2 separate regions of the Homo sapiens genome follow, and region 1 is linked to region 2. The links come from fine-mapping of genetic effects on gene expression. A gene starts in region 2. The other region holds a variant in brackets. All regions are shown on one strand. Distances are between the middles of the regions.

What was found. PIP is the estimated chance that this variant, and not a neighbour inherited with it, causes the effect. A credible set is the group of variants that fine-mapping cannot tell apart.
Region 1: its variant is the best candidate, but not a certain one, in a credible set for the expression of SUCLA2 in whole blood (INTERVAL, PIP 0.85).

Annotation. Positions count from the first base shown.
Region 1 is chr13:47,944,926-47,949,130 of GRCh38, reverse strand. SUCLA2 (succinate-CoA ligase ADP-forming subunit beta) reads left to right here. Exons shown (of 11, transcript NM_003850.3): 10 at 103-191. Among named protein-coding and RNA genes, the nearest start is that of LINC00562, 14 kb to the right of the region's middle. The variant C/AC (reference allele first, on the strand shown) is at 2,551.
Region 2 is chr13:47,998,980-48,003,184 of GRCh38, reverse strand. SUCLA2 (succinate-CoA ligase ADP-forming subunit beta) reads left to right here and starts at 1,912. Exons shown (of 11, transcript NM_003850.3): 1 at 1,912-2,005. The coding sequence starts at 1,916. It overlaps SUCLA2-AS1 (SUCLA2 antisense RNA 1), which reads right to left and starts at 1,780. Exons shown (of 2, transcript NR_189308.1): 1 at 1,363-1,780; 2 at 494-750. RefSeq lists enhancers at 372-1,571, 1,948-2,137, 2,158-2,207, 2,228-2,277 and a silencer at 1,718-1,827.

The sequences.
Region 1 (4,205 bases), 54 kb after region 2:
TCCTCTGTTGAGGTTTTATTCTTATACCATGTTTTGGCAAACATTTTAAAATGCTTTTGTGTGTGTATTTAAAACATTTATATTTGCATAAATCATTTACAGGTACACGAGTCGATGATGCTAAGGCACTGATAGCGGACAGTGGACTTAAAATACTTGCTTGTGATGACTTGGATGAAGCTGCTAGAATGGTAAATTGGCCATGTTCATCTAAGGAGGATTTATAAACACAGATTCTAAAATGAACCTAATTATTAATACAGCTAATAATTTGTGTTTCAGCTAAATATTATGAGTGTAATGAATGGTTAAAGAAAACGATTATTCATGACTCTTGCTGAAAGATGTTAAGGCAGACTTTATTCAGAGGGACTGTTGCAATAAGCATAGAGACTACTGCAGTGGAGTTTTGCAGTAGGGGAGAAAGATTGGGCCCAACTCCAAATACAGCAAGGAAAAGTGGGAATTTATAACCAAGGAAGAGGGTCGGGGCAGTGGATGAAAAATTACTAAAAGGATACATTATGGGTAAGGGAGGATCCTGGCTAAACTGACTTAAGCAAGATTCTTGGTAAAATTGGACTATGCAGGGACAAATACAGAAGTCCAAAAGTTAGGGCCAAGTTGAGAAGAGAGTTCAGAGTAGCCTTTGGGAGGCTGAGGCAGGAGGATTGCTTGAGTCCAGGAGTTTGAGACTAGCCTGGGCAACATAGGGAGACCCTATCTTCACACATGTGCGCACACACACATGCACGCACACACACATGCACGCATATGTATGTATGTGTGTGTATCTATCTATATATTCGATAAATATATATTGAAAAAACAAAAGAGAGTTTGGTCAAGGAGAGAATCTTTGTCAGAACGTCTTATATCTGTGATCATCTTAAACAACGGTCAGCTCCTGCCCAATCTTGTTTGTTGTTTTGTCTGTATTCTTACTTCCTCCCACAACTGTGATTATTTTCAAGCAAATCCCAGACATTATATCATTTCATACATTTCATCATGCATCTGTAAAAGATAAAGGTATTGATAATGGTATAAAAAAATTACTGTTACTTGTTTTAGGTGGGGTAATGGTATTATGGTTATGTTTTATAAAAATACAGTCTGTTGAAATTTCTGAGTCTCTTATATCTTTTGTTTAAGTTCTTTGTAAGGGTCAGAATAAGTCTCTGCATTGTAGTTGGTTAATATGTCAGTAAGTTTCTTAATCTGTTGGTTTCCCCTTTTAAAAAGAAAAGTATTTTCTGTGGTTTATTTGTTGAAAAATCCAGGTTGATGGTCTTGTTAAGTTTCTCATAGTCTGGATTTTAATGGTTGCATCTTTAGGCTGTCATTCATTTACTGTGTTCTCTGCCCTCTCTGTGTTCTCTGCCTTGTGTATTTCCTGTAAACTGGGAGTTCAGTCTGTAGGCTTGACCATATTCATATTTGATTTTGGGGAGCAGGGAACAAGAATATTTCATAGTAGGTGTTTAATTTCATCAAAACGTATACAATGTTAATCTTTTTGTGGTATTACTAGCCATTGACATCATAGCTTAGATCCAGTATTTTGTTTGTGTTGCAAAGCGTTGCTATTGTAATTCTGTCATTCTTCACTTATTATATGTAATGCTTCTAAAAAGTAATACTTCCACGTGTCAACCATTTGTTACCATGGAGTACATTTTGCATAGGAAAAGTAGGATAATTACCTGATTATTTGCCTTTATTGACCAATTTTCAAAATAATGTTTGTTCTATTATGTCCAATAAAGGTGACCTAGGGTTTTTTTTGTTTTTTGTTTTTTTTGTATTTTGTTTACTTTTTGTTTTCAGGTGTGTGTGTGTGTGTGTGTGTGTGTATTGTGCGTGTGTGCATACACATGCATACACATGTGTGTTCCACTGGCATACTGTTTTGAACTTATGACTTAAAACATTGATGTAGTTCAGTTCATGTAAGTTGTGATTGAAATTGTCCAACCTTTGGTCTTTGGGAACCTCTTCAGGTTAACTGTTGCATCCTTCTGAGAAGCCCTCTATCTGGTATGATAAAATGTTTCAGGCTCATCTTTACGTTTCTTGAGTCAGAACTTGAATGGGCCAAATGGTATTTAGAGAGCACAATTTGGCCTTATGAGTATTCATAGATACTGGGTTGATTATTGTTTCTGAGCTTTTTAAGTGGCAAGTCTGAGAAAACATGTATTTTTTAAAGAGGTAATACTTGAGTTCATACTGATATTTTCAATGCAAGTCCAGGAGTATAGATTTTTTTTTCTTATCTGACATCTGTTTGTACCTTCGTTCATGCCATACTATCATAATTATTCATTTGCTTTGTCCCTTAGTACAGATATGACAGTTTTATAATAAGAATACCAACAGTCTGATTACTGAAAGCAATTATATCTGCATTTCTTTCTGTCCTTTAGGGTATGTCCCACAACTTAGTGGATTTTAAAATTCATGTGAAATAATTCTCTGTGTGTTTTGTCTCAGCTTTGTATAGTTTCATTGTTTTTAAAGGGATTGCTTTTTTTAAAAAAAAAAAAA[C/AC]ACAACCTTTTGTTTTTTATTTTGTATTTACATGATTCCAAAGTGGAAAGTATAGAACAAGGTATTATCAGGGAATCTAGCTTTTATATATTTCCCTCTTTACTTCTTCCCCAACAGGCAACCTTTTTACCTTTTTTTTTTGTTTGTTTTTTAAGAAAGTTTTGGTTTATCTTTCCACTTCTTAAAAACATAAGCTAATTGTATGTATATAACTATATGTATGTGTGCAGTAGTCCCCCCTTATCTGCAGGGAATGTGTTGCAAGACCCCTAGTGGGTGCCTGAATCACAGATAGTTCCAAACCTGTATATACTGTGCTTCTTCCTGTACATATATTCCTTTGATAAAGTTTATGTATTAGACATAGTAACAGATTAACAACAACTAATAATAAAGTAGAACAATTATAACAATATACCGTGATAAATGTGAATGTGGTCTCTCAAAATATCTTATTGTTCTATACTCACCTTTGTGGTGATAATGAGATGATAAAATGCTTACTTGGTGAGATGAACTGAGGTGAATGATGAAGGCATTGTGACATAGTGTTAGGCTACTACTGACCTAATGATGTAACAGAAGGAGAATCATCTGCTTTGGTTCATCCTGGATCATTGAGCCATGATGTTGATTGTTGGATGTCAAGAGTAGATAATGTTGATGACTAATGGAAGAGTAGTTTATACAGCGTGGATACGCTGGGCAAAGAGATGGTTCACATTCCACTTGGAGCAGGATGGTGCAAGATTTCATCACACTTCTCAGAACAACACACAGTTTAAAACTTAATGACTTTTTTATTTCTGGAATTTCTCATTTAAAATTTTTGGACCACAGTTGACTGCAGGTAACTGAAACTGTAGAAAGTGAAATTGGATAAGGGGGGGACTTTGTGTGTGTGTGTGTGTGTGTGTGTGTGTGTGTGTGTGTGTGTCTCCCTTTTCCCACTTTAGATTAATGGTAATCTATACTTTGTTTCTTTTACTTAACAATAATGTGTATCAGAGAACACTTCATAGTAGATACAGAGAGATGAGAATTTTTTGTCTTCCCTTCCATTATGTTTATAGACATTTCATTGAACACTCGAACACTCTTTGGGCTCTATAGCTTAATCAATAGTAGATTCTTGATTTTTTTTTTTTTTTTTTTTTTGAGACTGAGTCTTGCTCTGTCACCTAGGCTGGAGTACAGTGGCGTGATCTCAGCTCACTGTAACCTTTGCCTCCTGGGTTTAAGCAATTCTTGTGTCTCAGCCTTCTGAGTAGCTGAGACTACAGGTGTGTGCCACCACGCCCAGCTAATTTTTTTTTTTTTTTTTTTTTTTTAAGACAGAGTTTTGGTCTTGTTGCCCAGGCTGGAGTGCAGTGGTGTGATCTCGGCTCACTGCAACCTCCATCTCCCAGGTTCAAGCAATCCTCCTGCCTCAGCCTCCCAAGCAGCTGGGATTACAGGCATGTACCACCATGCCTGGCTAATTATGTATTTTTAGTAGAGATGCGGTTTCACCATGTTGGTCAGGCTGGTCTTGAACCCCTGACTTTGTGATCCACCTGCCTCGGCCTCCCAAAGTGCTGGGATTCAGGTGTGAGCCACTGCGCCCAGCCTTGTATTTTTAGTAGAGATAGGGTTTTGCCATGTTGACCAGGCTG
Region 2 (4,205 bases):
TATTAAAACAAACTTACATCTCTGGAATATATCCCACTTGGTCATATTGTACAATTCTTTTTATATATTTCTGAATTATATTTGCTAATATTTTGCTATGGATTTTTCCATCAATATTCATGAGAAGTGTTGGTATTTTTTTCTTTTTGTACGGTCTTTTGCTGGCTTTGGTAGTGGGGTGATTCTAACTTCATACAGTACATTGGCAACTGTTCCTTCCTCTTCTATCTTCTGGAAGAGGCTGTATGGAATTGGTGTTAATTCTTGTGTAAACATTTTATAGAATTCATCAGTGAAAGCTTTTGGGCCTGGAGATCTCAGGTTTTTTTTTTTTTTAGTTTAAAAATTACAATTACAATTTTCTCTAGTTAGAGGACTATTTAAATTACCTTTTCATATTAGGTTATTTGTAGTAATTTGTGCCTTCTGAAGAATTCGCTCATCTTGTCAAAGTTGTCAAATTTATGTTATGTGGTGTTATTTATGGCATTCCTTTTTGGTGTCTGAAGGTTCTGTAATTATATTCCCTGGTATGTTCCTCACATTGGTAATTTGTGTCTTCTCTTTTTCTTTTTTCTTTGCAGTCTTGCTGGAGGTTTGTTAAATTTATTTATCTTTTCAAAAACCAGATCCTTGGCTGGGTGTGGTTGCCCACACCTGTCATCCCAGCACTTTGGGAGACTGAGGCAGGAGGATCGCTTGAACCCACGAGTTGGAGACCAGCCTGGGCAACATAGAGAGATTCTGTCCCTAAAAAAATAAAATAAAAAAATCAACCAAGCCTGGTGACACACATCTGTGGTCCCAAACTACTCCAGAGGCTGAGGTGGGAGGATCCCTTGAGCATGGGAGGTTGAGGCTGCAGTGAGCTGTGATCGCGTCACTGCACTCCAGCCTGGGTGACAGACCAAGACCCTGTCAATCAGTCAATCAATCAATCAATAGCTTCCCTGGAGACTCCAGCCTGCCACCAGCTTTGGTAACTAGTGGCCGACTGTCAGGCCTCTGAGCCCAAGCCTGCACGTGTACATCCAGATGGCCTGAAGCAAGTGAAGAATCACAAAAGAAGGGAAATTGGCCGGTTCCTGCCTTAACTGATGACATTCCACCATTGTGATTTGTTCCTGCCCCACCTTAACTGAGTGATTAACCTTGTGAAATTCCTTCTCCTGGCTCAGAACCTCCCCCACTGAGCACCTTGTGACCCCCGCCCCTGCCCGTAAGAGAAAAACCCCCTTTGTAATTTTCCGCTACCCATCCAAATCCTATAAAACAGCCCCACCCCTATCTCCCTTTGCTGACTCTCTTTTCGGACTCAGCCCGCCTGCACCCAGTTAAAATAAACAGCCTTATTGCTCACACCCTGTTTGGCGGTGTCTTCACACGGATGCGCGTGACACCGATCTCTTTGAGCATCAGAAGCGCATGACACCGACCATCTTCTCTTTGAGCATCACAAGCGCGTTACACCGACCATCTTCTCTTTGAGCATCACAAATGGTTTTATTCATTGCTGTAGGCCAAGGGCTCAAGGCTGTTTAGCACGAAGTAGACACTGGGTAATCATTTCTTGAATGAAACACATTTTACAGATGAGGCAACTGAGGCTGAGAGAAGTTAAGATCACCCAAGTGGCGGCGCTGGTCACCTTTACATTGCAATTCACTAGGAAGTGTTCAGGTTGCTCTGACCGCAGGGCAGATATTGGGGCTGCGGTGCCCAGTTCCAAAGGTCAAAGCTTGCTCCGCGCCCGCCAGGGAGCTGGTCTAGCGGCTGCAGTGTTAACCCGAGGCCCCGCCCCCAACGGGTGGCGCGAGGCGGGGCGTAGGTGAGCGCTGCAGAGAGGCTGCGCCTTGGGCCGCCTGTCGCCTGTGCGCCTGCGCGCGGCGCCGAGGGGACGGGGTCCGACTCAGAAATGGCGGCCTCCATGTTCTACGGCAGGCTAGTGGCCGTGGCCACCCTTCGGAACCACCGGCCTCGGACGGCCCAGCGGGCTGCTGCTCAGGTAATGCCTTCCAGTCCGCTGTCGTCTCGAGGGTCGGCAGGAGAAAGGGTGAGGTGTGAGGGGTCCCGTGGCCCGGCTCGGGGTCACTTCGCCGGCAGTGACATTTTCTGGGTGCCCTGCAAGGCCCTCGGGCGACTTGCCTGGGAGTGCTGCTCGCCAGGACTACGAGCGAGCCCATGTTTGCGCGGCTCTGACCCAGCCCTTAGTCCGCGAGGATCCCCGGCGGCCCGGCCGTGGCTGCTCCTGCAGTTTCTAAGAGATGGGCGGGAGCAGGTGGGCTCTGAGTGGAGGTGAGGGGGTCAGGACATTTTCTGCTGCCATTCCGGCGTCTGGCACGGTGGGCTGAGACTTGCGCCGCCCCTTTTTGGGCAGGGGGGAATGCCCTTCAAAAGTACTTTTGTGTTTCTTGGGAGCTGTCATAGGTGGGAATGTCAGAGGACCAGCGGTGCTTACTGACTTGCCTTTTGTGGGGCAAGGTAGGGAAGTTTCCCCTCTCCTCCAAGTAGTTGTATACTGTTCTACTTGTTAATAGCAGTAATAAGATTATGTTTTCTACCTAACCAGTTGGAGAGGTAAGAAAATAATCTTTTGTATAGCCTTATTTCTGGATAGGCTATAGCATAATAGTTACTGGCCTTGTTTTGAATATTTGATGTGTGCCAGGTAATGTGCTAAGCGCTTTACGTGTAGTTTCTCAGGTTTTTCAGCAACTGTGAGGAAGTCATTCAACACCTGCATCATTGTTGAACATATTATGGTTAAGAGAACAAGTAATTTGGACTAGGTCATATAGGAGGTAAGATCAAAGCTGAGATTTAATCCCAGAGGTGTCTGGTTCTAAAGCCGTGTACTTGAGTTGGCTCCACAACTTCGAAAACAAACATCTTCCTTCCAACTTTGACAACAAAAAACTGTGGAAGGGCATTATTGGTGTCCTAAGTCAATTCCAGAGTTTTGGGTTTTTTTCTGAAGTAACTCTTCATACATGTCATAGTATGAATTGATTTAGGGCCCTCCCGCCCCTACCTTTTTTTTTTTTTTTCATTTTTATTGAAGTTGTTCATACTTTCAGCCTAGGGGTAGTGAGTTCTGTGAGTTTGCTTCCCGATAGAAGTGACTTTTTGACCTTGAACTTCCTTCTTATGAATCTTAGAAGAGTGCTATTTAGTTTTTAGAAAATGGGGAATTTAGTGACAAATACGTTTTCATTCTAGTCAAAATCTTTATCTTTTTGGAAGTTCATTTAAAAGCCTTCATTTCTCCTTATGGAAATTTCCAATATTATTTTCTTTATAACAGTTGCTGTCTTCTACCCTGGTATTAAGAAATGCAGCTCTAGAGTTTGGAAGGACCTTAGTCCAACCCTTTGCTTTTGTAGATGAGGACATAGAAGTACGGAGTCTTAAGAAACTCGTTCAAGGTCACACATTTAATTTAGCAATTTGTTTTCCACATTTTTTTTTTTTTTTCCTTGAGACGGAGTCTTGCTCTGTCGCCCAGGCTGGAGTGCAGTGGCGCGATCTTGGCTCACTGCAAGCTCCGCCTCCCGGGTTCATGCCATTCTCCTGCCTCAGCCTCCCTAGTAGCTGGGACTGCAGGCGCCTGCCACCACGTCCGGCTAATTTTTTGTATTTTTAGTAAAGACGGGGTTTCACCGTGTTAGCCAGGACGGTCTCGATCTCCTGACCTCGTGATCCTCCCGCCTCGGCCTCCTAAAGTGCTGGGATTACAAGCTTGAGCCACCGCACCCGGCCTGTTTTAAACATTTGTTTAAGTTCTCTGACCCTCCTCCAATTTCTTGGTATCTTTAGCCTAGTGTACCTTCGTTGAAAATAGATATTTCAGCATATGTCTTTAAGAATAAGGACATTCTTCCAAATAACCGCAGTGATCATACTTAGGAATTCAACATTGCTGTAACATGAATATATATAGTTTAGATTCAGATTTTTCTAGTTGTCCCCAAAGTGTTCTTTATAGACATTAGATTTTTTAAAAATTTAAACTGGGATGAGACCTTGTGACATTTTCTCTGACCAACTAACCAATTAGGTGCCACCTAGTGACTTATGTGCTAGTGACCTAGTGCTCTTATATGTGTTGCAGTTGTTTATTTACATGCCTGTGAACTCTGTGGCTGGGACCCAAGTGTCTTTATTTTTTTAGTGTCCCTAGCCCACTGTCTAGTTCATAGTCATCA